Regions from separate parts of the Homo sapiens genome. Here all the other regions are reported to be linked to region 2. Evidence: microRNA targets listed by miRTarBase, many of them from high-throughput screens and not tested one by one. Region 2 holds a microRNA gene; each other region holds the end of a gene's coding sequence.

Region 1 (3,118 bases), not on the chromosome of region 2:
TCCCAGCTCTCACCCAATGCCAAGGAGTTCGTGTACAACGGTGGTGGCTCACCCAGCCTCTTCTTTGATGCGGCCGATGGCCAGGGCAGCGGCACCCCAGGCCCGTTTGGAGGCAGTGGGGCTGGCACCTGCAACAGCAGCAGCTTTGACATGGCCCAGGTATTTGGAGGTGGTGCCAACAGCCTCTTCCTGGAGAAGACACCCTTTGTGGAAGGCCTCAGCTACAACCTGAACACCATGCAGTATCCCAGCCAGCAGTTCCAGCCCGTGGTGCTGGCCAACTGACCATCTACCTGCCCGTGGGGCCAGGAGCACCCAAGACCACAGAAAAGAGAAAGGAAAGGCCAAAAAAAAGAGGAAAAGAAAAATGTACAAAAAGATTTTCGATCTTCTCACTCTTACTTCTAGAAAAAAGATCCAGCCCAGGCACGGAATGGGAGGGCCCTGCAAAGCACCCAAGTGTGTTTCACTCACCCCTTACCGCTCGCCCACCGGCCTGTGATTTATTTGGTTGGTTTGGGTTTTATATTTCTTTTTCTTTTTTTTTTTTCTTACATGTAGTTTTCTATATAACATCTTTAATGAGTGGCTTCCTGTGCTAAGAATGGTCCAGATGTGAACTGCTGCTCCCTGCTCCTCCCTTCCTCCTTCACACTCCTAGTTTAGGATTGATGTGTCCAAGCTCATAGGGAAGAAAGAGCTGCAGCTGGAGCCTGACCCTCCCTGGAACAGGGAGAGGCTGGCCCGTGTCACTGCCTCTGTCACCCAGCTATCCTCGCACTCAAAGCCATCCAACCTCAGCAGGCCTTCTCGGGCCCTGCCACCTGAATAGGTCTGACCCCAGTCCCCACTCCCTTTCAGGCTGGGCCACAGGGAGTTGCTGGCTGGCCACTTGACACCCTCCCCCTGGAGCTGATGTCTGTGACTACAGGGAGATTAGCACTTCGTCTAGTGAAACTCCTTTCATCTCTGTCCTATGGCCCCACCCCACCATTCCCTCTAGGCCCAGACCATCATCATGGCCCTGGCCATTGATGTGTATGGGCTTTCTTTCCCTCATGCAGCCCCTTCTTCCCCAGGCTGGATGTTGTGGGTAGGGAGGGGTGTGTGTGTGTGTATTTGGTTTGCTGTCCTTTTTTAAAGGATTCCAAGCCATGTGAAACTTCCCTTCTGGATGTGATTCTGGGTCGCAAGTCCTTATTTATATGTGAGGCTGGGGAATGGGCTGGGGGTATTGGCAGTCCTTTTGCAGGGCAGTGTGTGTGGTGGGGTGACACCGCTGTGGCTTAGCCCAAGACACTCCCAGAGGAAAACACTGCAGAAGGAACTGGTTTGCAGACTGTGGAAGGATCTGCAGTTTTGTTTTTGACCAAAAAAATAATAATAAGTTAGCTCTGAAGGGCAGAGGGAATACCCAAGCCCCTGATGCCTATGAGAAGTCCCTGGACTTCAACCCTCCTGTTGTTTGGCCTTAGCCCAGAGGGAGCTGCTCACCTGAGCACCCTTGGGGGTGGGCAGAGAGGCAGGGTGGGATTTTAGAGTTAGTGTCTGTGCGGGGGCAGCCCTGAGCCTGGAGTTGAGACTTTGGGGTCTCTTAGTTTGGAGGTGTTGAGTGCATTTGTGCCCCTGCCTGGTTGAGAGCTTCTTGGTACCTCTTGCCACCCCTTCTCACTGCCCTGACCCAACCCCACTGGACCTTGATGCTGCGAGGAGTGGTGTCCTGACGGACTCAGCACTCCCGCCTGATGTATTGGATCATAGGAGAGCACTTGCTCTCCTGCCTCTGCCAGGAGAGGGCTTGTTCCTCCAACTCTAGGAGGCCAGGCAAGCATGGACAGGAGCCAAGGGAGCAGGGTCATTAACTTTTTCTTCTTTGCAAAGTGGGCACTTGGCATCAGGGTCCCAATCACCAGAAAGCACCAAAGCCCCTGGCACCCCACCCACTCCATCCTACCCAGGGACCCCAAGTAGGCAACTGTTATGGCAGTGGGTCCAGCCCAGGCCAGCACTGCCAGCCTCCTCTCCCTGCAGTAGGCACCAGCTCTACCTCCCCCGGCAGGCAATGTCCTGGCTTCTCAGCCCAGCACCATCTGTTCCCCTAGACTTCTCAGGGGCCAGCCCAGTCTGGGCCACCCTTTGTTTCCCTCATCCTCGGCTCCCACACAGGTGACAGACCCAGCAGATAGCTTCTCTCTGGGAAAGGTTGGATGCTGCCTTACATCCCCTTCTAGCCCTCCTCCCATCCACACACACAGGCACCCACCCACACCAGGTCGGCTTGTTTCTCACATGTAGGGAGAGAGGGGAGACCAACCCCTTTGTGTCTTTTGAAATACGAAGAAAAATGTGTGTTCAGGAGCATGACTCCAGTGCTGCGCTCTTGGGCCCAGTTCAGTCTGTCTTGTCTCAAATCTAGGCATTTTTGCTTCAATTTTATTTTTTTTAAGAATACAAAAACAGAAATCTGCACTAATTTACCTGGTTTCGTAGGAAAACTTTTTTTTATTTTTTACATTTTTTGGTGTCCGTTTGTATTGAATAATTTGCTACATTTGTAAAATGTAAGAGGTATATAATATATGTATATTTCTAACGTAAAAAACATAATTTTTTTCTTTTCAAGATTTTTTCTTAAAAAGATGAGAGAAACATATTTTTTCAGGAAAAACAAACTTTAAAAAAAAAAGAGGAGAAATAAAACCTTTTCTCCCCTTTCCCCATCCTCTATCTATCCCTCTTTCCCAGGAACAAATCAAAAGGTGGATTATCTTCTGAAGAATGGAAACTGTTAGTCCAGAATGATGTGTTTTTCTCAATGCAGTGAGTTATAGATTCTCTAGTTTTCTCCCTAGGGATGGGAAGGGGGCATTGAGGCAAGCCTGGAGAGGAGCCCGGGGAGCAGGGTCATGAACTTTTTTCTTTAGTGAAGGAGGAATACAATCAAGGGTTTTGTATTCAGAATGTTGTGCAATATTTTGGAATGGGACATTGGTGTGTTTAGAGATTTTAGTTTAAAAACAAAACAAAAAGATTGATCAAATCTGTACAGTTTCTATTGTTCCAGATTTTTTTAAGTTTGTATTAAAAGCATGATACATAATAGCCTTCTGCCTGCTCC
Region 2 (3,118 bases):
GCCCGGAACTGATCACCACCACCCCATCCCATCATGCTCACAGGGCCTGGGCCCCAGCGATGTTGCCCATGGCCTGAATTTGCAATGCAAATGGTGGTGGTGAACAAACAGAAGCCCAGAAGGTAGCAGCTGGGGCAACAGCTGGATACAGTCCCAGGTCCTGGGTTCTTCTCTGAGTCTCAGTACTCTGTCTGTAAAGTGCAGGGCACCATCCGACTGCAGGCCTGGTGGATCGACCATCTGAGGAGCCCCTGCTGGGTACTTCTGGGAGACAGCAAAGTTTATCTCCAGCACTATCCCCACCCTGTGCTCACTCCATGCTTCCCTGATTGGGCACCCTGCTGTGCCTGGAGCATAGGGCTAAAACTAAACTACCACCTTGGACCCTGGATCTCAGCTCCCTGTAACAGCTAGACCCTAATCTAAAACCAAACAAAAAAATTTTAAAAATTATGTGTTTTTTTTCTTAAGCAACAATTTTAACATCCTCCAAGGGTAGGACATGACTCCCACCTAGGCATAGCTGCCAGCAAGAATTCAGAGACCCAGAAACTTTGAAAACTCAAAATTTGAGGCTGCAACAAGGGCCTGCCTGGGTCTTTCTCGGGAAATCTTAAAATAATCCATTATATTTGAGTAGGCCATTAAGCTTTCATTCTACTTGCAGTCACCCAAACCATTTTTGCTCACAAATTATACTTCCTTGGTAGCCTCCCTCAAGAAGCCTGGCCTTATTTGGGAAGCTGAAATGAGAATGAGGAAGTCATCACACACCATCCCAAACCCTCACATTCTTCAAAGCCGTCTCTTCCTCCTGACTCCCTGCTTCTATGAGTGGTGCCTCCAACCCTCCCAAGCCCGAGACATCCTACCCATGACTTTGAACGTAAGGCAACCATTGGCCCAGAGCCAGTCATTTCATAACCAGTCCTGTGGAATGGCTGTAGGAATCCAGGAAGGGTCTGTGGGGAAAGGTGGCATGGGGTTGCATTAGGAATCAATCTTATAACTCCTCTGATGGCAGATGATAGTAGCAATGAAGGGTAAAGTACAGAGGGAAAGAGGGACATACTAGAGAGCGCCTTCGTCAGGTGAAAGGAAGAAGAGTTACTGTAAATGCCACGGGAGGCCCCGCTGGGAAACCAGGCAGCCCAGTGTCAATGAAGACCACAGGGTCCATTTAAATGGAGGAAACACCCCTCAACCCTAAGTGCCGAAGAGCTTAAGAATGAGTCTGAAACTAGAGCACTTCACTGGGTGATTAGGGGGCCACGCCAACCCATAGGAGGCCAGGATCTGGAGTGGTGAGGGCAAATTCCAGAGAGCAAAAATCCAATGGGAAGGGAAAAGAAGAGAGAAGCCATATCACCAAGCTTCTGGACTGAGTGCGAAGGAGCACTTGCAGGCACGCTAGCCACATGGATTAGACTGAGCCCGTGCAATCATTCCCACTCTTCTTGAAGTCAGTTTAAAATTAGAGTCAAAAAAACAAGTTATAAACACATGCAAGAAAGTGGTAAAGGAAAAAAGAACATATCAACATTTTGTATGACAGAAAGCAAATGGATGGTAGAATCTGGCTTAAAAGGGAGAAGAAAAGCTAAAATGCAGATAGGGATGCCAGTAAAGTGCAGAGAAAAGAAGAAAAAGAGGGACAGACAGGGATGCCAGTAAAAAACAAGCCCATTTGCACTCCAGGTCCCACAAATGCTCCTGATTGGGGCCCCCGGACACTCCTGAACTCCATCACAGAGGCTGTCAATGTTGGGATTGGCAGCAAGTTTACATATGGACACTCAAACCTACTCCCCTGGGCCATGAGTCCAGGTGGCTGCCCTCACCAACTCCAGCAGTAGCCATGGGCTTCATTCCATACAGAAGGCCTGTAGTTCCAGCTACTTGGGAGGCTGGAGGTAGGAGAATCGCTTGAACCCGGGAGGTGGAGATTGCAGTGAGCCGAGAGCGCACACTGCACTCCAGCCTGGGTGACAGAGCAAGACTCCATCTCAAAAAAAAAAAAAGAAAAAGAAAAGAAAAGGGGGAAAAAAAGAAGGCCTGAACCTGCACACAGCCTGCCGCTGGGGTATACTAGACACAGAGGAGGACCGGACAGGTGCTGCTGCGTGAACACCAAAGGGTTACATGAAAGTCTGCAAAGTGAAGAATGAGACACTCGGGTCTTAGAACACTACATTTATATGCCTGTGTCAGAGGATTGAGTGGTTTTTCTCTAAAGAAACTATTAGGCTGTTGCAAAAGTAGTCACGGTCTTTGCCATTACTTTCAACTGCAAAAACCGTAGTTACTTCTGCATCAACCTAAGAATAGTTCAAAAGAAAAGACATATGGGCCCTCTGCAAAATTCTCAAGTGAGGCCTAACAAATCACAGGCCCTGCATGTACACAAAGAGCTTCCAACGTCATGTCTCGCTGTTAAATTCAAATGGACAGTCAAGGGCTGGCAAGTATTTAAGGAAAGCCTCCAAATGTGAATGGCAGAGACTGTAACATACAAAACAGAAAAGGAAGAAAAGGAATTCAGAGATAACAGAGACAATGCAGGGAGTATTAAAAAAAAAAACTTTTCACTTTTTGCCTTGTTGCACTCCTAAAAGCAAGATGGGTCACCAGCAGCTCTCCTGGAGCCATCCAAAAAAATTCGGCCAGGGTTCTCATTCTTGTCATTATGGCCTCAATATGTGCTGCCAGTGTTTCCATCAGTATGCAGAGGAGGTAGGCTTCATTAGGTTAGACTAAGTGAGCTTCCCTGAATGGATTATCCAAGGCATCCACCAAGTGAAAGAAACCATGCTAGCTCTCTGTACATAAAATAAAATTTTAAAAAAAAAACTTTAAAAAATGATAATATGGCCAGGAGTGGTGGCCCGCACCTGTAATCTCAGCACTTTGGGAGGCTGAGGCAAGCAGATCACTTGAACCCAAGAGTTAGAGACCAGCCTGGGCAATATAGTGAGACCCCATCTCTACCAAAAAAAAAAAATTAGCCAGGCATGGTGGTGCATGCCTGTAGTCCCAGCTACTCAGGAAGCTGAGATGAGAAGATCAGCTGAGTCTGGGGAGATTGAGGCTGCAGTGAGCTATGACTGCACCCCTGCGC
Region 3 (3,118 bases), not on the chromosome of region 2:
TACTATGCTTCTATTTTTTTTAACACACTGGAAATAACTTTTAAAAGCTGCTACATTTTTATTGCTGAGAAATTATTGTACTTCTTTTTAAATATATGCTAAAGGGGAGCGTAAACTTAAATTCTCTTTAATTTGCTCAACCAGAGGATATAATTTAAAGAAATTGGGGTTTACCAAGATTTTCCATTTGTCCTCCAACACAGCCTTGGCTTGATAATAAGCATACAGTATTTGGACGAGTGACTAAAGGAATGGAAGTTGTACAGAGGATCTCCAACGTCAAAGTCAATCCCAAAACAGATAAGCCCTATGAGGATGTCAGCATCATAAATATTACTGTCAAGTAAAATAAGATTTGTTTTAATGTACTTGCAAATAAAAATACAATATTAAACAGATTATTTTACATTAGGAAGCTTAGGACTTGCTGAATATACAGATCATGTTTCAAAGATACAGTATTTTTGTATTTTTTATTAAAGGCTATTTTTTAAAAATTACCTTTGACTTTTCTCGCAATATTTCTAATCCTGGGAGGTGATAAATTGAAATGGACTAAACTCAGGCAAATAGCACTCATTATAGGTAATTTCTAATCAGCCTCAAATTAAATATTAAATAATTACAGTACTCTCCTCCACCCCCTTTCCCATGGTTTTCTTTCTACTGTCAACCATGATCCAAAAATAGGTGAGTACAATACAGTGAGATATTTTCAGACAGCAAGACCACATTCACTAACTTTTATTACAGTATACTGCTATAGTTGTTCTATTTTATTGTTGTTAATCTCTTACTGTGCCTAATTTATAAATTAAACTTTATCATAGATATATATATATGAAAACACAATATATATGGGGTTTAGTATCATCTGAAGTTTCAGGCATCCACTGGAGGTCTTAGAAGGTATCCCGTGCGATGACAACTCTATTAAATAATGACAGTGGTACACAACTGTGCTTTAATTTTGAATACCTGCCAGATATTCCGCCCTTATGTTTAGAAGAGTGCAGATCCCTCCTATAAGAAAAAAATACTAGGATATGATATTATATGTCATTTCCTTTGTTTTACAAGGTTTCAATGCCAAATATTTTAGTCTTTTGATAACTGTTTAGTAAGTAGTGGTGAGTAAAGCCTCAATAAACAGGAAGTTACTTTGGTCAAAGTGTTATATTCCTTAATAATTATGAAATATTCTTTCAAATGAAAGATTCAGAATAAGTGAATACCTGAGTCCTTAGTTTATTATATGCAGGTTGATTTTCAGATTATTTTTCTAACATAGGTAAACAATTTTTTCTGTCCTCAAGTTATAGTATATCTTTAGAAAATATACCATTAAGAAGTATACATAAAAATTTTGGTATCTAACAATGGAGAGATTAGTAGAAATTGGAGCAGTAAAACAATATGAGCACAAATTCTTATATTGATCTTCTTCACTTACACTTATAACTAACTTCATAACTATTAAGACTCACTGCTTCGTTTCCAGAAAGAAAGACTCTTTCTTTCAGAAACTTACAGGAAGAACATTCTCAACAGACCTGTGTAGGGAATTTATATTCTTAAGTTTTAAATCGGCTTAAACTTTTCCTTCTATTGATCAGCAGGATTCTTTATTTATTTCGTGCTACAAAGTTGTGAGATAGATAGGAGATTATGCCAGATTGTGCTCCTGTAATGTATGCTCCTTTTTAAAAGTAGAACTTAAAGTTAGACATGAAAATGACTTTTCAATGTGACATTTACTGTTTCTAATTTTAGTTGTTTAGTCTTACCTACCTAGCTTTATTCATTCCTAAAAATTTAATCTAAATTTTTGGTAATATTGCCACCAAGTGGTGATGATGCCTCATTCCCCAACAAATACAATTATTTTGCTTTGAGTGAAAACCATATTTGACTAATGAATTTTTCGATTAATATCAAAAACTTAATCGGCAGACCTAAAAACATACATTGCCCATGTCTTTTTAAAAGCATGTTTTAAGTTATCAGGATATAATTTCATCCTTATTCATTAGTCCTTTTCATCCTTTATTCTTTTAGGGAAGAATACAGCTGTCTTCTTCTTTGTTAGCACTTTGCCAATTGAGAAGTATCCCAGTGTTACATAAAAAGCCTTTCTCTTAGCAGTATTAGTTCATGAGCTACCACTAAGTTTTGCAAGCCATTTTCTAAAATGGTCATTTAAAATACTATGTTTTCTTATGAAACAAGTTTACATTTAAAATTTAAAAGGCAGTAACAAAGTTTCACTTCGTTCAATGTAAAACTTTAGCTCCGCCTTCAAAACACTATGGTTATATTACTTATTTAAATGTGGCCTGCACATTACTTCTCGGCCTTTTGGCTAAGATCAGGTGTAGTTAAGATCAAGTTTAGTATCTGTTCTCATCAGTAAATGTGGCCTATGTTGCAAATTCAAAACGTTATTTCTAAAATTTTGCTGTATCAAATAAACTACATCTCAAATTTGACAGGCATGCCAACCCATACCCATTTTGTTTTATTTTCTCTCCTAACCACAGCACAAATAATGACTTCTTAAATTGGTTACAACTAGCAATAATATTAGGTAGATGGTTCAAGAAAGAGACTTTCAAGAATAATGATGGGACTTCTTAAAAATGATCTTAACATTTTATTGCTGTCTATACTTATCATATATGTAGTGCAAATAATGGCTTCTGATGGTTATAAAGCATTCCTGAATTATAGACTACGGCTATACACTTGACATACCTGCTTTATATAACATACAGTAATATTTAGACCTAATACAGAAATTCAGCTACTAGGAAAATTCTAATATACTGTATATAAAAAAGCTCTCTTCTTAGTTTCCCAGGGAAGACTAGCACAGTCTTAACTAATGATTAGTGAAATAATACAACCACAAATAGTAATAGGAGCTTGAGAAAAATATTTCTTTAAAAATGAATCACACACAAACACCTACCATTATACATACATTATAATCAGGCACAATTTTTCAACTGTGTTCAGTTATATGCTAAGAATGTGCATTACAAAGTTTAGCAAAATTAGTGAAAAGGGAAGCAAGTTCACCTTAGTGTTACACTTTTTCTTCAATTAACTAGTAAAC
Region 4 (3,118 bases), not on the chromosome of region 2:
AAGTGTGGTTTCTTCTCATCTTTTGACTTAATTACAGTGAGGGCCCCAAGGCTGTTGCAGCTCCTCGACCTGATCGGTTGGTCAATCGCTTGAAGAATATCACTCTGGATGATGCCAGTGCTCCTCGCCTAATGGTTCTTCGTCAGCCAAGGGGACCAGATAACTCAATGGTATGAGGGCATACAAGGCTTGGGGGAGGCCAACTGATAGACCAACATAAAATATGTGGTCCTATTTAAACAATAGGTCAGGAAACTTAATGAAGCAGGGAGACTTCCATATTGCTTATAACTAGTTAGGACTTTCTACACATTGGTTCAGCCCCCTAACCTAATGGTTGCTTACAGTAAGAAGCACATTTCTTTTCTTGATGCTTTGAAGACAGTTTAGGTAATGAATGGGTCAGGAGTGCTTACTGTGGATTTTCTCCTCTAGGAAAGAATTAGTACTGCATAAGATGATTAAAAATAATGCTTTTGTAGTTTCATTTCGGAATAGTGAATGTACTATGATTGTTGTGCGCTCAAATCATTAACTGCAGGGTTTTTTTTTTCTCCCCCCCACAGGGGTTTGGTGCAGAAAGAAAGATCCGTCAAGCTGGTGTCATTGACTAACCACATCCACAAAGCACACCATTAATCCACTATGATCAAGTTGGGGGGAATCTGGTGAAGGGTTCTGAATATCTCCCTCTTCATCCCTCCCGAAATCTGGAATACTTATTCTATTGAGCTATTACACCAGTTTTAACACCTTCCTCGTGTTATGTTTAAAAAAATAAATAAATTTAAGAAAACCATTTTAAATAATGCACAGTTGCAGCCTGGAAAAACTTAAGGTGGCGCCTTATAGTATCAATTTTAGGAGCTTTATTTGGTGCATTTAACGCAACTGGTAATTGCAGAATCCACTTTGCCTGTGTAAGTGAAAAATATAGACTGTTATCTTGTTGGCCCTATGAAATTCTGCACTTTTCATTATATACTCTACCTTCATTAATTACTTCTGGCAAGATGTTCTGCCTTAGCACTCAGTTGCATTCTTTTCCTTTTTCTTCCTGTTCATTATGCTTTAATTCTGAGGACCATATGAGGGTAGAATATATTATCTTTTAAAAATTACAAAAATTTGTATAGGCAAACCATTTCTTAAAGTTGATGGCCAAATTTTAAAATGTTATTTTTCATATCATTTATAATCTTGTCACAATCCACTTAAAGAAGTTTGGTTATATTTCAGTGAAAATTTTCTTCCAGAGTAGGTTTTTTTTCGTGGGTTGGGGGGTAACTTTACTACAATTAGTAAGTATGGTGCAGAATTTCATGCAAATGAGGAGTGCCAGCAGTGTGATAATTTAAACATATTTAAACAAAAACAAAAAAAATGAATGCACAAACTTGCTGCTGCTTAGATCACTGCAGCTTCTAGGACCCGGTTTCTTTTACTGATTTAAAAACAAAACAAAAAAAAATAAAAAAGTTGTGCCTGAAATGAATCTTGTTTTTTTTTATAAGTAGCCGCCTGGTTACTGTGTCCTGTAAAATACAGACACTTGACCCTTGGTGTAGCTTCTGTTCAACTTTATATCACGGGAATGGATGGGTCTGATTTCTTGGCCCTCTTCTTGAATTGGCCATATACAGGGTCCCTGGCCAGTGGACTGAAGGCTTTGTCTAAGATGACAAGGGTCAGCTCAGGGGATGTGGGGGAGGGCGGTTTTATCTTCCCCCTTGTCGTTTGAGGTTTTGATCTCTGGGTAAAGAGGCCGTTTATCTTTGTAAACACGAAACATTTTTGCTTTCTCCAGTTTTCTGTTAATGGCGAAAGAATGGAAGCGAATAAAGTTTTACTGATTTTTGAGACACTAGCACCTAGCGCTTTCATTATTGAAACGTCCCGTGTGGGAGGGGCGGGTCTGGGTGCGGCCTGCCGCATGACTCGTGGTTCGGAGGCCCACGTGGCCGGGGCGGGGACTCAGGCGCCTGGGGCGCCGACTGATTACGTAGCGGGCGGGGCCGGAAGTGCCGCTCCTTGGTGGGGGCTGTTCATGGCGGTTCCGGGGTCTCCAACATTTTTCCCGGCTGTGGTCCTAAATCTGTCCAAAGCAGAGGCAGTGGAGCTTGAGGTAAGTTTATCTCATGCATAGTGTTCGGCTTTGGGCTGTGGAATGTTCAGGCGTTTCACTGATGCCAGAAATGGAGCAGAATCTATCAGCTGGAGACAAAGGCCTTGGGCGGGGGTCCTTCCATTTGGTGCCTACGTGGGGAGATCTTTGGAGACAGAAGGGAGAATGGGAAGGAGTTGCGGCCTGGAGGCTTCCTGCTAGAGCTGAGAAGCCTTCGGGGAGTAATAGGAAGGGGGATTTCCATTGCTTAGGCTGAGGGCGGGGCCCAAGGACTGTTGAAAAATAGCTAAGGATGGGGGTTGCTAGAAAACTACTCCAGAAGTGTGAGGCCGATATTAATCCGGTGTTTTTGCGTTCTCTAGTCACTTTAAGAACCAAATGGAAGGTCACACTAGGGTTTTCATTTCCATTGATTATAGAAAGCTTTAAAGTACTGTAGATGTGGCTCGCCAATTAACCCTGATTACTGGTTTCCAACAGGTTCTTGCTGGTGTGAAATGACTGAGTACAAACTGGTGGTGGTTGGAGCAGGTGGTGTTGGGAAAAGCGCACTGACAATCCAGCTAATCCAGAACCACTTTGTAGATGAATATGATCCCACCATAGAGGTGAGGCCCAGTGGTAGCCCGCTGACCTGATCCTGTCTCTCACTTGTCGGATCATCTTTACCCATATTCTGTATTAAAGGAATAAGAGGAGAGAAAGTAAAAAGTTATTTTGGGTATACATTCAGTTATGCAATAAGCTTAACGTGTTTATAGAGAACAGTTCATTTTTATTAGCTGCTGAAGTTTCTAAAACCTGTCCAGTTTTTAACAGTTCTGTAAACTATTGCAAACTCAGTGTTGAGTTCATTCATGAGTTTCTTCATATATAACAGCTCTATTACATGAGAAACACAGGCCATAGTAGCGAGACTGTCTGATTGTATGGGAGATAATAGGATGGAGATAAAGGATTCAGAGATGAGTGTTCTTCAATATTTATTTATTA

The links. The annotated mature microRNA hsa-miR-548ao-5p reads AGAAGUAACUACGGUUUUUGCA and lies in region 2 at 2,289-2,310, opposite strand. An mRNA with a match to its seed (bases 2 to 7 or 8) in the 3' UTR can be bound and repressed. Matches are read on the target gene's strand: a 7mer-m8 pairs with bases 2 to 8, a 7mer-A1 pairs with bases 2 to 7 and ends in A, and an 8mer does both.
Region 1: the mRNA of TOB2 is a reported target of hsa-miR-548ao-5p. Seed matches in the 3' UTR shown: 7mer-m8 at 399-405.
Region 3: miRTarBase lists PPWD1 as a target of hsa-miR-548ao-5p. The part of its 3' UTR that is shown has no 7-base or 8-base seed match.
Region 4: miRTarBase lists CSDE1 as a target of hsa-miR-548ao-5p. Seed matches in the 3' UTR shown: 7mer-m8 at 1,000-1,006.

Annotation. Positions count from the first base shown.
Region 1 is chr22:41,433,478-41,436,595 of GRCh38, reverse strand. TOB2 (transducer of ERBB2, 2) reads left to right here. Exons shown (of 2, transcript NM_016272.4): 2 at 1-3,102. The coding sequence ends at 285. Among named protein-coding and RNA genes, the nearest start is that of TOB2, 12 kb to the left of the region's middle.
Region 2 is chr8:41,268,814-41,271,931 of GRCh38, forward strand. It overlaps MIR548AO (microRNA 548ao), which reads right to left and starts at 2,330; the gene lies at 2,235-2,330. All of the region lies in intron 2 of SFRP1 (secreted frizzled related protein 1), which reads right to left. It also overlaps the pseudogene RPS29P2.
Region 3 is chr5:65,587,050-65,590,167 of GRCh38, forward strand. PPWD1 (peptidylprolyl isomerase domain and WD repeat containing 1) reads left to right here. Exons shown (of 11, transcript NM_015342.4): 11 at 204-500. The coding sequence ends at 347. It overlaps TRIM23 (tripartite motif containing 23), which reads right to left. Exons shown (of 11, transcript NM_001656.4): 11 at 2,641-3,118. Among named protein-coding and RNA genes, the nearest start is that of PPWD1, 25 kb to the left of the region's middle.
Region 4 is chr1:114,715,665-114,718,782 of GRCh38, reverse strand. CSDE1 (cold shock domain containing E1) reads left to right here. Exons shown (of 20, transcript NM_001007553.3): 19 at 38-170; 20 at 567-1,867. The coding sequence ends at 614. NRAS (NRAS proto-oncogene, GTPase) reads left to right here and starts at 2,012. Exons shown (of 7, transcript NM_002524.5): 1 at 2,012-2,125; 2 at 2,606-2,733. The coding sequence starts at 2,623. RefSeq lists enhancers at 2,007-2,206, 2,217-2,316.